Linked DNA regions of Homo sapiens: region 2 is linked to region 1. The links come from fine-mapping of genetic effects on gene expression. Tissue or cell type: whole blood. Region 1 holds a variant in brackets; the other region holds the start of a gene. All regions are shown on one strand. Distances are from middle to middle.

What was found. PIP is the estimated chance that this variant, and not a neighbour inherited with it, causes the effect.
Region 2: DNMBP starts here. The variant in region 1 is fine-mapped to the expression of DNMBP in whole blood (TOPMed, PIP above 0.99).

What each region holds. Positions count from the first base shown.
Region 1 is chr10:100,197,567-100,205,766 of GRCh38, forward strand. CHUK (component of inhibitor of nuclear factor kappa B kinase complex) reads right to left here. Exons shown (of 21, transcript NM_001278.5): 12 at 7,510-7,633; 13 at 6,940-7,091; 14 at 4,522-4,583; 15 at 3,105-3,214; 16 at 2,405-2,454. Among named protein-coding and RNA genes, the nearest start is that of ERLIN1, 16 kb to the left of the region's middle. The variant T/C (reference allele first, on the strand shown) is at 3,073.
Region 2 is chr10:100,005,325-100,013,490 of GRCh38, forward strand. DNMBP (dynamin binding protein) reads right to left here and starts at 4,623. Exons shown (of 17, transcript NM_015221.4): 1 at 4,514-4,623. RefSeq lists enhancers at 1,050-1,129, 1,680-1,739 and a silencer at 4,396-4,915.

The sequences.
Region 1 (8,200 bases):
CATTAACATGTTTTTATTAAAAACAAACAAAAAAACCTATATTTACGTTTTCTCTCTCTCCTATATTTAGGTTTTCTCTCTCCTGAAACTCTACACTCCAGTCATACTGCATTTCCTCAGACATGCTAAGTGCTATACATACATGTGTCTACACAGTATACTCATATCTACGAGAGCCACCTCCTTTCACTGGTTACTGCTACTTGAGATACTTGGAAGCCTGAAGTGGAAGGATCACTTGAACCCAGGGAGTCCAAGGCCAGCCTGGTCAACATAGCAAGAGCCCACCTCTAAAAACAAAAACCAAAAAACGATATTTTCTAAAACAAAAAAATTTGAGTGAGAACACTTGCACTGTTTTACATTTTTGCAAACCTTTCTGATATCACCACTAATCTCATCAGAAAAGTTTTTAAGTACTGAGAAGCTGTCATTCCAGCTGGTAAATACAAGTTTTCTAAAATTCTTTTTGCTTGAAACATGGAATTTTATCATTGACAACAAATACTGCTTTTTTCCCTTAAAGTAATAAGTGTGCTATACTTTTTATTTTCATTTAATTTCTTAGAAATTATCTCACGTATGCAAATCTGAATAATCATAGTTTGCCTGACAGTTGCTCTTCCAAGTAAAAATGGTATCTTCCCTGAAAGAGGCCAGACAACTAGCAACGTAAACAATTACTGAAGTGGTTTTCCTTAAGACAACCATCATACTTCACTGTATAGAAGAAACACTTTATGAGTACTTCCCATTTCATCACACAAAATATTAAAAACCCATACTCAAGCGTTGAGATTTAAATAAAATAATATTTTTACTGCTTTATCAAGGACATTTGTAAGTGAAACTGTCATTTTTTAAAAACTGTGACTGCATGGTGGTAAAAAATATAACGGCTACTAGCATAGTTTGGCGCTAGTGCCTTGATTCATACTAAGGTGAAAGCCATTTTATGTTGCACCATCAATGAAAATGTCAACATGGTGAAAAATGCAAATAACATCTTATTATGAAAATGGTTCTAACCTCACAGACTCTCTGACAAAGTTTCAAGGATTCTCACAGGTCCATATGCCACATTTTGAGAACTGCTGGTCAGACTAAACTGAATACATTTCAGTAAAATAAAAGCAGTATAAGAGGAGATAATGTTATTTTTTAAATGTGAAAATAGTATATGAAATACAATTTCACATGTATATTAATTTGCATGTGTTGCTATGTGTCTACAAATTTTAAAGTGTAAAAGTATATCTTTTTTTAACATGCATTTAAGTATAATGCACATTAGGGCACAGACTTTATTTCTTCTGTTACCCTTCAAAACAAATTTTTAACTAAATGATAATATCTTGCAAGTACATAATAGTTTATAGTTTTCAAAGCATTTTCACAAACATCCTCTTAAATACACTGTCACAATATACTCACTGAGTAGGAAAGCTAGGTTTCAACCCCATTTTGCAGAAGAAGGAAATGGGAAACGCAGATTTGCCTGAGGTAACGGTCAGTAAATTACTCAATCTAGAATTCAAGCCTCTGATTCCCCATCCAGTACTCTTTCCAGCAGACCTTGCTCAGTATTTAGCAGATGTTCAACTGGAATTATTTTGCCAACAAAACAAGTCATCAGTGACCAGTGCAGATGAAGGCATTATTTTCAAAGCAATCTGCTTTGGCCTAGAACAGCACAGGCCTTCCCTCTAACCATTCCATACCTGAACCCACTGCCTCAAATTCTTTCCAACCTCTATAATATTTTTTTGTTTTGTTTTGAGACAGAATCTCGCTCTGTCACCCAGGCTGGAGTGCAGTGGTGTGATCTTGGCTCACTGCAACCTCCTCTTCCCAGGTTCAAGCGATTCTCCTGCCTCATCCTCCCAAGTAGCTGGGATTACAGGCACATGCCAACATGCCCAGCTAACTTTTCTATTTTTAGTAGAGATGGGGTTTCACCATGTTGGCCAAGCTGGTTTTGAACTCCTGACCTCAGGTGATCCACCCACCTTGGCCTCCCAAAGTGCTGGGATTACAGGCATGAGCCACCACAACTGGCCCAACCTCTCTAATCTTAAGCAACACTTATTTTTTCCATCTTTCTAAACATTTTCTTGCTGCTTTTTCCTCTCTGAGTTCCTTTTTTCTGTCTTCCATTCTTTCTTTTCACGTCCCCTTCTAAAATTTTTCTACCTCACGTTCTCTGTTACTTTCTCTTTATCATCTCCTAAATTCTCACAATCTTAAAGCTTATTATACCATGTCTCAATGGCAATACCAAAACTGGAATTTATTCTGCAGCTTTAAGAAAATTTTTAACTTAAAAATATTAGATCCCCCACATTTGTTAGGCTAGTGATAGTTACCTAAAATGCCTTCAAGCACTGTGGTAGAAGTGTCTTACCTGAAGGTCTGTGTTTTAACTGCTTATATAGATCAATGGCACGCTGTTCCCTATAAAAGAGAAAACACGCTCTGATAAGTGAAGGTAATTTAATGACTTCAATAATCTACAACTTGAAACAATATTTTATTTGAATAATGAACCCATTTTAAAGCAAGTTCATATTGCCAACAAGTATTTCACAGAGCATTGTATTGAGTAATAAGAACTATACAAGTTCTTAAAATGCAAAGTTTAATATAGTTCATATCTATTCTGATCTATCATGGGGACATCTCTGCACCACAGACACTTAAAAAGACAAAAATTATGACCTATAATTCGAGAAAATATCTGAAGTTTTTAATCCAGAACTTTAATTCAGAAAAAATTTCAAGTTTTAGGGCATTTAAGAGTCAATACCTTGGACCAGAGGTATAATGAGTAGGGAAATAGTTTGTAACTTAGTTATACTTGGAAAATTCTTAACACTCCTATGAAATAAATGCTTTTATTAAAAACCAAAAAAGGCCAACCCAAAGAATTATTTCCGAAGTTTCCTGTGACTGAGAAAAAGCTTCCATTTTAAATATAATGCCAATATATTTGGGGAAAGGAAAACTATAGAAAAGAACCACTAGAGGTTTAATTTGCCAGATGTAAGCAGAAAGAATACAAAATATTACAGA[T/C]GTCAAGACCAACAACACAAGTGCATCCTTACAGAGATTCCATCAAGTCTCCCTGACGTCTTCCATAGGGGCTCTTCTGTAGCTCCATGATTTCAGCATGCAAAGACATAATCTGATCCTCCAGGTATCCAATGACACCAACCTAAAATATGATGAAAATACAAAGGAAATGAAAGGCTTACCACTACATCATAGGAAACAAAATTCAGATCTTAAGGATACAGAATGACTTGCTGCTTCATTAGAGAACTAAATAATATAATACGAAACACTGATTTTGTTAAAGCCTTTCTATTCTTCAGATTCTGACACTTAATCTTTCACATAAGAACATACTTAGTCTTAGTCTTCTCTCTTTTCTCTCCTGACAACAGTAAACTACTAGTATTTGCTTTTACCTCCGGAGAAGCAAAAAGCTACAACAGGTATCAACTAACAAGAAAGAAAAAGGACCACCAAAACCATTGGTATTACTTGTATCTTGGCTCTATGATTTTGACTGCCCCCTGGTCCCCACTACCTTGAATAGGGACACAAAAAGATAAAGAACTTGGATTTCCCACCCCAGGACACCATGGGTATCCCCACCCACATCCTCAGGGTAAGTACTGACATTAAGGAGTGTAATAACTTAGGACCGTGGACAAATGTACAGGATAAGGGGAAAAAATCTGCCACCTAGAGAATGAGCTATACCTAGGGACACCATATAATTTATTGTCCAAACCGGCATAATTTTGAGAGTGAAAGGGACTACTACTGATAATTATGGCAAGACATTAAGTATAAACTGGGACAGTCCCAGGTAAACCAGGATGTGCAGCCATCCTATCTAAACCAGTCACAAAAATAATAGTGACAACTACCATTACTGACTCCCATTTAATCTTCATAACCCTACTAGAAAAGAAATTGTCCCTATAATATGGAAACTAGCTGGATGTGGTGGCTCATGCCTATAATCCCAGCTCTATGGGAGGCTGAGGTGGGAGGATTGCTTAAGCCCAGGAGTTTGATACAAGCCTGGACAACATAGTGAGACCCCGTCTCTACAAAAAATGTAAAAGTTAGCCAGGCATGGTGGTGCACCTCTTGTCCCAGCTACACAGGAGGCTAAGATGGGAGGACTGCTTGAGCCTGGGAAGTCGAGGCTGCAGTGAGCTTTGATCATGCCACTACACTCCAACCTGGGCAACAGAGTGAGACCCTGTTTCAAAAAATAAATAAATAAAGGAAACTGAAGCTCAGTGAGGCACTAGGTAATTTTCCCAAAGCCCTTGTTTTTAATCACTATGATACATCCCTCTTTATATACAAAGCATCTACTAGAATTTTGTCTGAATTTCAGGAATGACATGAAAAATGCTCTTTATATATCAAAACCAAAGATAGTTTCTAATGGAGACATCAAGAATTAATAAGTATACAGAATGACGTCAATGATTTTACCTCAGCATAGTGGATGGCCTTTTCTTCCATTTCTTTCCATGCTTTTAGCATTTTTTCTGAAGCTAAAAGAAAAGTCTAAATTGGTTATCTCAGAAATAGCCATATCTTTAATTACTGGCTGCCTGCCTCCTTGCCATATCAACATCAAAGATGTGTTATGAGTTGAATTGTGGTCCCCCAAAAGATATGTGGAATTCCTAACCCCTAATACCTCAGAATGTGACCTATTTGGAAATAAGGTCATTACAGAAGTAATCAGATAAATTAATACTCATACTGGAATGGTCTGGGCCCTTAGTCCAGTACGACCAGTGTACTTAGAAGAGACACAGGATACAGATACACAGGGGAGAATGCTCTGTGACAATGGAGACAGATTGAGGTGCTGCAGCTGTAAGCCAAGGAATGCCAATGATGGCTAGCAGACCATAAGAAGCTAGAGAGAAACAAGGAAAGATTCTTCTCTACAGATTTCAGAGAAAACATGGCCCTGCCAACACCTCAATTTTGGACTTTTAGCCTCCAGGGCTGTGAGACAGTAAGTTTCCATTGCTTAAGCCACTCAGTTTATGGGATTTTGTTATGGAACCCTTAGGAAATGAATACAGATGACTTTTTTCTTAAAAATATATATATTTATACCAGTGTGCAGATGGGTGGATAAAGGAAAAAACAACAAAAAAAATTTTTTTTTGAGGTAGAGTCTCACTCTGTCACCCAGGCTGGAGTGCAGTGGCATGATCTCAGCTCACCGCAACCTCTATCTCCAGGGCTCAAGCGATCCTCCCACCTTAGCCTCCTGAATAGCTGAGGTGTGCACCACCATGCCCGGCTAATTTTTACATTTTTTGTAGAGATGGCGTTCTACCCCATGTTGCCCAGGTTAGTCTTGAATTCCTGAGCTCAAGGGATCCACCTGCTTTGGCCTCCCAAAGTGTTGGGATTACAGGCGTGAGTCACCACCTGGCCAGAAAAGAAATTTAATACTTGAATATGATTTTTAAAAATTAAATACTATAAAAGGATATAAACAGAAAAGACTCTCTCTTCTACCCCTCTACCATCCACCTCAAGGGACCTTACTATGATTATCTGTTACATAGACACATAGCCTGCTCCCTCACAAGTGAAAACATCTGTATACTCTTTATTTTTTCCCACAATTTAAAACTGTCAACTAAAGACTTAGGTGATCTTTTAATAAAAGCACATATAGATCTACCTCATTTTTCTTTAACAATTGTATAATAAGCCTTTGACAAGTCTAAGATATTTTAATGAAATAATTATAATGTTTTATCACTCACCAGAATGTCAATAATATACAAATAGAAATAAAATATCAATAATATATAAATAGAAATAAAATATCAATAATATTAATAAAACCAGTTCTGGAGAGTAAATTCATTCACCCAACTGGACACTATTGATTGTTTACTCTGAGATACACAGAGTTTGCTCAGGACAAGTATATGTTTTTAGGAAACAAGTATTTGTTTCCTAAAAAGGATTTGTTTTATAAAAGAAAACAGAAATGCTGGTAGTATGACTCCTTCAATTTACTCATATTTTAACTCTGTTTTTTTACACTTCCTTAGTACATCTGAAGGAGATAAGCTTGGAGTCAAATATGGAAAATTTGGAGACTGTGTACACTAAAAAATAGTAGGACTCCACAGTAGATGGTTTGAAAAAAACATAGCCTTAGAATATTTGTGTCATTATTTACAGAAAAGTAAGCAGTTTAAGACTCCCCTGGTTGTCTTAGTCCATTTGGACTACTATAACAAAATACCATAGACTAAGTGCCATAAAAACAACAGAAATTTATTTCTTATAGTTCTGGAGGCTGGGAAGTCCAAGAACAAGGCAGATTTGAGGGCCTGCTTTCTGGTTCCTAGATGACCATCTTCTTGCTCTGTCCTCACATGCAGAAGGGATGAGGGATCTCATTCAGGTCTCTTTTGTAAGAGCATTAATCCCAAACAGGAAGGCTCTACTCTCATGACCTAATCACTTCCCAAAGGCTCCACCTACCAACACCTTCACCTTCAGGGTCAGAATTTCAACATATGTATTTTGGGGGGGATACATTCAGTCCACAGCACTGGCTAAGAAGTCCAGATTTTGTATTTATTTTAAAATCAGGTTTGAAATTCAAGATTATTAAATCGCACCTGTATTTTTTTAGAGCTAAATAATTTTAGCCCAATTGTGAAGCTAAATTGCTCAACTAAGCAAATTTAAAAAAAGAGGTAACATTCAAAACAAACATGGTTTATGTTAATTTAAGTTGTCCTGTCTCTTGTTCTAATGTGAAGGTAAGTAAAACAACTGGCTGAGTTAAGAAGGCAAAATAACAGATGGCTTCAAGAAACCAGATGCTCCTTTCAAATACATTACACAGACACTTACATATCCCATACGTCATCTGCTCGCTGTATCTCTCCAAGTCAAGCTGAATGCTTTTGTGAAAAAACTCCAATTTAGCTTTCAGTTGTTGTGATGCTGAGATCAAAGTGTTCTTCATTTTTGTTAAGTTAGCATTATATCTAAGAAGACTTAACCTAAACCACAGCAAGAAAAAAAAGAAAAAGAAAAAAGATATTATCAGCATTCAGAAACATTGAACAATAATGTAAAAACATAAACTGCCACAAGGCCAAAGCCTAAGTTTCTATTATCAATCTATGAGAAATAACTGAGCTCTAGAATCTGATCTCTAAAGACTTCCTGCCTATAATATTTTGTGATAAACAATCTTTTTATACTAGGACCGTATGGGAATTATTACCCTCAAGCCATTACAATAGAATGGTCTCAGTCCATTAGTAAGAATTCTACAAGTTTATCAGAACATTACACTTCAAATTGGCCCAGTATGTTACTATTACATGCAATATTGATTAGTGAAAACCGGCAAGATTAATTCTTGAGTATATGATGCACATTGCATTGTGCTTATAAACAACAGAATCCACTTACATTGCTGCCCTTTGTCCCTGAAAGAGCCTGCTATAGTCTTCTTTTAGTCCAGACACATAGTGCACTGCTTCAGCCCACACTTTACGCAGCTGTATAATTGGAAGCTGTATTTTGCTGTCCTGTACTATATACAAGAAGATGAGAAAAAGGGCAAGGGAGGTTAGTTACTTTTGAGGATTTTAGAGTTGATTTATCATTCTTTGTGATTTCCTGTCCACACAAACAGGATTCCCATAGATGCTAGAAACTGATGCTAAAAGAACCACTTGTTTCCATTTAATTCAGTTCAATATACATTTACAGAGCACCTGCAATACTTAAGCCCCGCTCCACATACAAGGGGGGAAATAAAAATGACACAATCGCTACACTCACAGAGCTTGAGATTATTCCTGTATCTGTCTTTTTTGCTTGCTTTTCTGCAACCTGGAATACTCTTTTTCTCTCTGCTAATCCAAATTATTTCTTTCAAGTTCTAAATCAAGTCCCATCTCCTCTGAGTCTTTCCTACCTCTGAATAATAAATTTCATATTCTGGACCAACAATCCAGGTTTAAGAATACACACAAGAGCCAGGTGTGATGGCTCACGCCTGTAATCCCAGCACTTTGGGAAGCCAAGGCGGGCAGATCCCTTGAGGTCAGGAGTTCAAGAGCAGCCTGGCCAACACGGTGAAACCCTGTCTCTACTA
Region 2 (8,166 bases), 190 kb before region 1:
AGGAACAACTTGAGTAACCACTCACTACACAGAGAGCAGATAAAGCAAAACCAATGGATGCAAACAGCATGGGGTATAAATGCAGCATTCCAAAGCAGAGAATTAGACACATAACAATATGGATGGATCTTAAAAACACTACTCAGAGACCTGGCATGGTGGTTCATACCTGTAATCCCAGTACTTTGGGAGGCCAAGGCAGGCGGATCACCTGAGGTCAGGAGTTCGAGACCAGCCTGGCCAACATGGTGAAACCCCGTCTCTACTAAAATACAAAAAAATTAGCTGGGCGTGGTGGCGCATGACTGTAATTCCAGCTACTCAAGAGGCTGAGGCAGGAAATGGCTTGAACCCGGGAGGCGGAGGCTGCAGTGAGCCGAGATCTCGCCACTGTACTCCAGCCTGGGCAACAGAGTGAGACTCTTGTCTCAAAAGTCTCCAAAAAAAAAAAAAAAAAAAACCAAACTACATAAAGGAAAATGAATTACAGCATTATAAATCAAGATACATACACATAAAACAAACATTCCCACTTTGCAAGCTCCTACATAAACAAAAGGAAGCACATGCAATGCATTAAGAATGAACACCTGTGAGACATGAGATGAATGGGACAAGGGAATTCTACAACAAAACCAATCTTTTAGATTCCTTGCGTGTTATAAAAGAAAAACTCTTATGACCTACGATAAACACAGAATTGTTTCCTTCCCCAAAGTTCCCAATTTTCCAAACAACAAAAGCTACTCTGGTTGCCAGTTCTGTTGATGAGTAACAGCTTTTCATCCTTTTTCAATCAGGAAGGGAAAATTCAGGGATCAGCAAAGTACAAAAGGGATGAGCAGAGAATATTTACGAAACAGTGTTTTTGTTCTCATGACCTGACAATCTGACTGAAAAAGACCTGATTACCTCTTGATTTGGGATGATTCAGCTACAGGCAGGTTGGTGTCAAGTTTTCAGGTCATCTGAAGCGATTTACTTTCAGAACCTCTTCCCACGCAATCCTCTTGCCTCCCTGTAGAAATAATACCCTGCACTACTTGAAAACTTAAAATTCTTGAGCTAGAGAGGGCCCAGTTATTTTACAGATGAGGAAACGAAGACTCAGGGAAGAATTATGGTGTGAGTCACACAGCTCTAGCTTGAAAAGGTCTCCCTGACTCAGCCCTTGTCCTCTTCCTGTCTATTCTCAACCCAGCAGCCAGTTATCCTTTTAAAACATAAGTCATCATCAACTTCACTGTTCAAAGCTCTCCAACGGCTTCCCCCTCACTCAGTGTAAAGGCCAAAATCCTTACAATGACCTACACTGATGTGTCCTCCCCACTCCCACCCCCTCTCATCTGCTGCCACCTCCCCCCAACCCACATCCACACTGACTGGCCACCATGACCTTGCCACCCCTAACATGCCAAGCATGCTCCTGCACCAGGGTTTGGAACATGCTCATCCCACTGCCTCCTGCTCACTTCCTCATTTCCTTCCAGTCTCCCACCATGAGTTAGGCCAGGTGTGGTGGCCCATGCCTGTAATCCCAGCACTTTGGGAGGCCAAGGTGGGTGGATCGCTTGAGGCCAGGAGTTCCAGACCAGCCTGAGCGACATAGTGAAACCCCGCGTCTACTAAAAATACAAACATTGGCCCAGCGTGGTGATATAAGCCTGCAGTCCCAGCTTACTCGGGAGGCTGAGATGGGAGGATCACTTGAGCCCAGGAGGTTGAGGCTACAGTGAGCTGTGATCACGCCACTGCACTCCAGCCTGGGTGACAGAGCAAGACTCTGTCTCCAAAAAAAAAAAAGTTATCTCAGTAGAGGCTTTATTTGACCCCTCTATATAAAAAGTAAATCCCCTACCACACATATACATACACACACACACACTCTTACCCTTTCCTGACTCTAAAGTTCTCCACAGCATTATGATCCTTTGACCTATTCATTCACATATTTGTCTGTTTCCACCCAATTAGAATGTGTCTGTTCCACGAGGGCTTAGTCTGTTTTGTTCAAACTGGTTCCCCCTCCCAGCACCCACAGCATACACAAGTGCTACCACGACCCCGGCACACACAGGTGCCCCCCACAAGCACATACAGGTGTTCCTCCTCCCGGCACACACAGGTGCCCACCCTCTCAGCACACACAGGTGCTCAGTGAGAATGTGTTCAGTGAATAAACAAGTAAGGACCAAAAGCCATGCCTTCAGACTCCTCACACAATGCCCTATGTGCCTGCCCTCAAGTGCTGGTTCAATTCTTGGTGGTCACGTCCTTCAGTCAGAAGAAAAGATCTAGAAATCTAAAAATGAAATAATACATTTTAGCTACTCTATTTCACCTCCCACAGCTGCCTTTCATAGCAGGGAGGATAAAGAACACAACTAAAAGTTAACATCTTGGTTTAACGGCTCTTTCATTAAAGAGCTCATTTTACTGCTGCTACTTAAGAACTTTCTGCCTTTCCAGGCAAGAAACTAATAACTCATAATTAACTCCTGACCAACAAGACTAAGTTAACCAATCTTGAAAATTAGCTTATTCAGATGTTTTCCAGAGTGTGTATAATAAGAAACTATTTCATATTAATTGAATTGGTGTTGCAAAACTTTCCAGAAGTATTCTGAATGAATTCTAAGGATGCTTTGGCAGATGATCAAGCACATTCGAGAATTTCACAGGAGATAATCTCGTAATAATACCATGTTGTAGGTAATCCATTAGCTGACTCTAGAAACAACAGAATACTAAACCTAGAAAATAAGCCAAAAGCCAGGCTCGGTGGCTCACGCCTGTAATCCCAGCATTTTGGGAGGCTGAGGCAGGCGGATCACCTGAAGTCAGGAGCCAGAAAAGAGGAAGAGATTGATGGAACGTTGAGGGAAATGCCCTGCCTTGGGGCTGCAAGACAAATAAATAACTGGTGCATATTTAAACAGATCGTTTATGAAGATTATTATTATCTCAGCCAAAAAATACACAATATGAACACTGTATAAAAGTCAATTTATCACATTCTCTGAGTCAGACTGTTCTTGGCTTATTGCAAAAGTTATCAGTGCACTGCACGAACCCCGTTCCCAAGCCAGACTTGAGCTACTCTCCACCCTCCAGAAATCACTCCATTGCAGCCTCTGAATTTAAGTGAATTTAACACGTAAGTATCTGCAATTTGAAAAGTCACTTTTCACTTATTTTAGCCCAACCCTGATAAAGTGACTGAGAGAGCTGAGAATAATGAATTTGAAGATTCGCTATGCCCCATTATGCAGAATTCTAAAAATCTTTTCTTCTTAAAACATTTTTATTATCACAATGAGTGACGTGTTTCAAGTTAACATGTAAAATCGGAGAACTCGAGACAGAAGAGGACCTTAGAGATCCTTTAATTCAATATTTTAGAGAAAAATGGGTAGAGGATAAACTAACTTGCTGATCACCGTGTCGGTATTCATGCTGTGAAAGTAATAAACGGAACACCAACTGAGAAATGATCCCCGAATGCTGTCAGGTACTTCAGTCTTGCAAAAACTACTACAGATTAATCAGTCCTGCTCATCCGTTTAACTCAGCTATGTAAACAAGCAGAGCTAGACTATGCTCAAACCCTAAATATTAGCGTTACCACTCGCCTGCCACATACTACAGCATCATTAGTTATGAAAGTGTTTTAATACAAGATCTTCATGTTTGTGTAAAAGAATTACTATAAAACAGACCTAAAGGCAAGTTACCCATATTCCAGAATAAGTGAGTGCCAAAAATATTCACCCTTCATTACAGTACAAATGAGACAGGCAGTAATAATGAGACTGCATTTAAAGTTGTTTTTGCACTTAAAATTTAAGTCTATACTCCTCATCTGCATCAGGCCCCGGCCTGTTTGGTAACCTCAATATTCCTTTACTAAAGTGACAGCATCACCACCCTTTGAGACACAGATGCCCGGTGGACATCTGTGCCTGCAGCAGGAACGCGGGTGTCCGCGGGTTTCTGCAAAACTCCACCATGACCAAAGCTGCATCTCCAGCTGAACAGGTCTAACCCTTGCTTCGGAAGCCATCTGTCCCTGTCTCCCTGACACAGAATCACGGCCTCCTATGCCGTAAGGCTCCGAACATCTGTAAAATCAGCGGGGTGGACTAACGCAGAATTCTTTTTCCAGCTCTCAAAATTCCGCCTCATTGCCGGAGTGGCAGGGCGGTGCAGAGAAAGAGCCCTGGGCTTGACACCGCTTGAAAAGCCCACGTTCGCATTGCTCTGACCACCCCTCCAACTCCCGGGGACTACAGGAGTGCGAGGGGGCCCGCTGCGCCCCACTGTCCCTCGCGGGCTCCTGGCCCACAGAGCGCAGCACAGCGCCGCCGCTGGGAAAGGGCCGATACAGGCCTAGCCGCGCGGCGCGGCGCGGCGCGTCTCTCGGGGTGCGGGTCCCCTCCGCCCGCGGCCCCGGACCGCGACCCCCGCTCCCCGCCCGGCCCCCGCCCGGCTCCGGCCTGGCCCGGCCTCTGACCTGCTTTCCGCCGCCCGGCGGTCCCTCGGCGCGGCAGGCAGTTGCAGCCGCCAGTCCCCAGCCCGCTGTCACCTCCGCCCCTGGAAGCGGCGGGCGGGTCGATCCCGTGTGAGTCAGCGCGCCGCCCCGCCTCCCGCTCAGGCTTCCGCCTCTGCCGGCGCGGTCCGCGCGGCCCCGGGGGCGCCAAGCTCCGCTGCCCGCGCGCCCACCTCTCCGGCGCCCGCCCCGCGCTCGCGCCCCCTGGCGGCCGGCCCGGCCCTGCTCGCCTCGCGACGTCAGAGGGGCGTCGCTCCCAGAACGGCCACCGGGGAAACTGAGGCACGGGGGCCCGCCCCCGCCGCAGCGCGCCGACACGGCTCGTCGGGCCTCGGCCTCACGCAGTCCTACGTGCAGCCCCGGCTGCGGACAAGTTCCTCCACTCTTGCTGTTCCCCCACTCCCGACACCACCCTCCAACCTAGAAAAAAGTCAAAATTCCATTCAGAGAAGTCCAAGTCGATTCCTGTCTGCGTGTGATGCTGTCCTCTTTGCTACCCCGAGGCAGTTTCCCTTATTATGCCACACAATACTCGCTGGGGTTCGCCTCTATCTGTCCCATTTTTTTCTGAGGAAAGTCTCTCAGGACATCTTTGAGAATTTGAGAGCAAGAAATGACAGAAGCAAGAACTGGGCAGGGCTGTCAGAACTCCTCCTCCGACTCAGTTTCTGAATCCCCGCAGTATTCCCGTTGTTTGTTTAAAGACCACGAAGTTACACAGCTTGGCTATGTTGCTGGAATTGCTGCGCCTCACGTTTCTGGAATCTACCTAGAGGATTCTGAAGAAGGCGGCGAGTCTATGACTGTGCATGCACAACAAAAATAAATATTTCACAAATCTCATCCCATGCTGTATATGTTTCTCCTTCCCTTTGCTTTTTAAAAACTTGTGGTTAAATATATATCACATGAAATTTACCATTTTAATCCTTTTTAAGTGTACAGTTCAGTGGCATTAAGTACATTGACATTGTTCTGCAACCATCACCACCATCCAGCTCCAGAACTTTTTCATCTTCCCAAACTGAAACTGTACCCATTAAACACTAACTCCTCATTCTCCAGCCCCTGGTAACCATCATTCTACTTTCTGTCTCTATGATTACTCTGGATACCTCATATAAGTGGGATCATACAATATTGTCCTTTTGTGAGTGGCTTCTTTCACCTAGCATAATGTCTTCAAGGCTCACCCATGTTGTAGCATGCGTTAGAATATCCTTCCTTTTGAAGGCTGAATAATACTCAATTGTACGTATATAACATCTTTGGTTTATCCCATCTTTCTGTGGACATTTGGGTTGTTTGTACCTTTAGGCTATGGTGAATAATGCTGCAATGAACATGGGTGTACAAATATCTGAGTCCCTACTTTCAATTCTTTTGGGTATATATCCAGAAGAATTGCTGGATCATGTGGTAATTCTGTGTTTAATTTTTTGAGAAGCCACCATACTGTTTTTTTTTCCTTTGCTTTTTGAAGCATGTTAACACTGTAAAGAGAACATTTTGTAGTAAAATATCAACGTTCGGAGAGTCTTTAAAATTCTTAGCAATGCTTCATTTGCCTGTAAAACTGTGACTTTTCGGCGGATCACGAGGTCAAGAGAACGAGACCATCCTGGTCAACATGGTGAAACCCTGTCTCTACTAAAAATAAAAAATTAGCTGGTCATGGTGGTGGGTGCCTGTAGTCCCAGCTACTCGGGAGGCTGAGGCAGGAGAATCGCTTGAACCCGGGAGGTAGAGGTTGCAGTGAGCTGAGATCGCGCCACTGCACTCCAGCGTGGTGACACAGCGAGACTCCGTCTCAAATAAATAAATAAATAAATAAATAAATAAATATTTTAAAACAAGTGACTTTTCTTTCCTCAAGAAAGTAATTAACATTGCAAATCTATTGTCTTTATTTTTGGATAATGTTATTAGCCAAAATAAAAATAACTTATTATTCAGTTTCCTACAATTTTGTTTTCTGTGGATGTAGCTTTCTAAAGTTGTTTGGAGTCAAGTATGCCATATGAAATTCAGATGAAAAATCAAGCATTTCGTTTTATTTATTTTTTTCGCCACGTTGGTCAGGCTGGGCTTGAACTCCTGACCTCAGGTGATCCACCCTCCTCGGCCTCCCAAAGTACTGGGATTACAGGCATGAACCACTGCGCCCAGCCTGGGGATCGGAGTTTTTTGTTTGTTTGTTTTTTTGAGACGGAGTCTCGCTCCGTCTCCCAGGCTTGAGTGCAGCGGCGTGATCTCGGCTCATTGCAAGCTCCGCCTTCTGGGTTCCCGCCATTCTCCTGCCTCAGCCTCCCGAGTAGCTGGTACTGCAGGCGCCCGCCACCACGCCTGGCTAATTTTTTTTTTGTATTTTTGTAGTAGAAACGGACTATCACCGTGTTAGCCAGGATTGTCTCCATCTCCTGACCTTGTGGAGTTTTTAAAGATAATTTGGCTGGTGGGGTCTTGAGAAGTGGGGAGTGCTGATTGGTCAGGTTGGAGATGGAAACATAGGGGGTCAAAATGAGGTTTTCTTGCTGTTTTCTGCTCCTGGGTGCAATGCAGAACTGGTTGAGCCAGATTACCGGTCTGGATGGTGTCAGCAGATCCATCAACTGCAGGGTCTGCAAAATATCTCAAATACTGATCTTAGGTTTTGAAATAGTGATGTTATTCCAGGAGCAATTTGGGAGGTTCAGGCTCTTGGAGTCAGAGGCTGCATGACCCCTAAACTGTAATTTTTTTTTTTTTTTTTTTTTTTGAGACGGAGTCTTAGTCTACCGCCCAGGCTGGAGTGCAGGGGTGCAATCTCAGCTCACTGCAACCTCCACCTCCCGAGTTGAAGCGATTCTCGTGCCTCAGCCTCCCTAGTAGCTGAAATTACAAGCATGCACCACCACGTCCAGCTAATTTTTGTATTTTTAGTAGAGATGAGGTTTCACATTGTTGGCCAGGCTGGTCTCAAACTCCTGGCCTCAAGTGATCCATCCACCTCAGTCTCCCAAAGTTCTGGGATTACAGGTGTGAGCCACCACTCCCGGCCTTAAACTGTAATTTCTAATCTTGTAGCTAATTTGTTAGTCCTGCAAAGGCAGACTGGTCCCTAGGCAAGAAGGGGGTCTTTTTGGCAAAGGGCTATTATCAATTTTGTTTCAGAGTCATGAACTGAATTCTTTCCCAAAGTTAGTTCAGCCTATGCCCAGGAATGAACGAGGACAACTTAAAGGTTAGAAGCAAGATGGGGTCAGTTAGGTCTGCTTTCTTTCACTTCATAAGTTCCTCAGTTAAAATTTTGCAAAGGTGGTTTTATACTTTTCATTTATCAATGAATTCTTACTGTACATTTGTGATGTAACAGGCATTGTGCTAGGTGTTTGGCATTCAGGCTGACCAACACAGACAAGATCCTTGCCTTCATGGAGCTCACATTCTAGAGTAGGGTAACAGACAATAAAGAAATAAACAAATGATAATCCAGACAATCATGGGGTGTAGTTGAGTGTTATGAAGGAAACAAACCAACTGATGCGATAGATTAGATCACAGAGAATTAAAGCCTAGTGCCCTAGGCATTTGTTGTATGTAATGAGTTAACTTCTCTCCTATGCAATGTTGGGGCT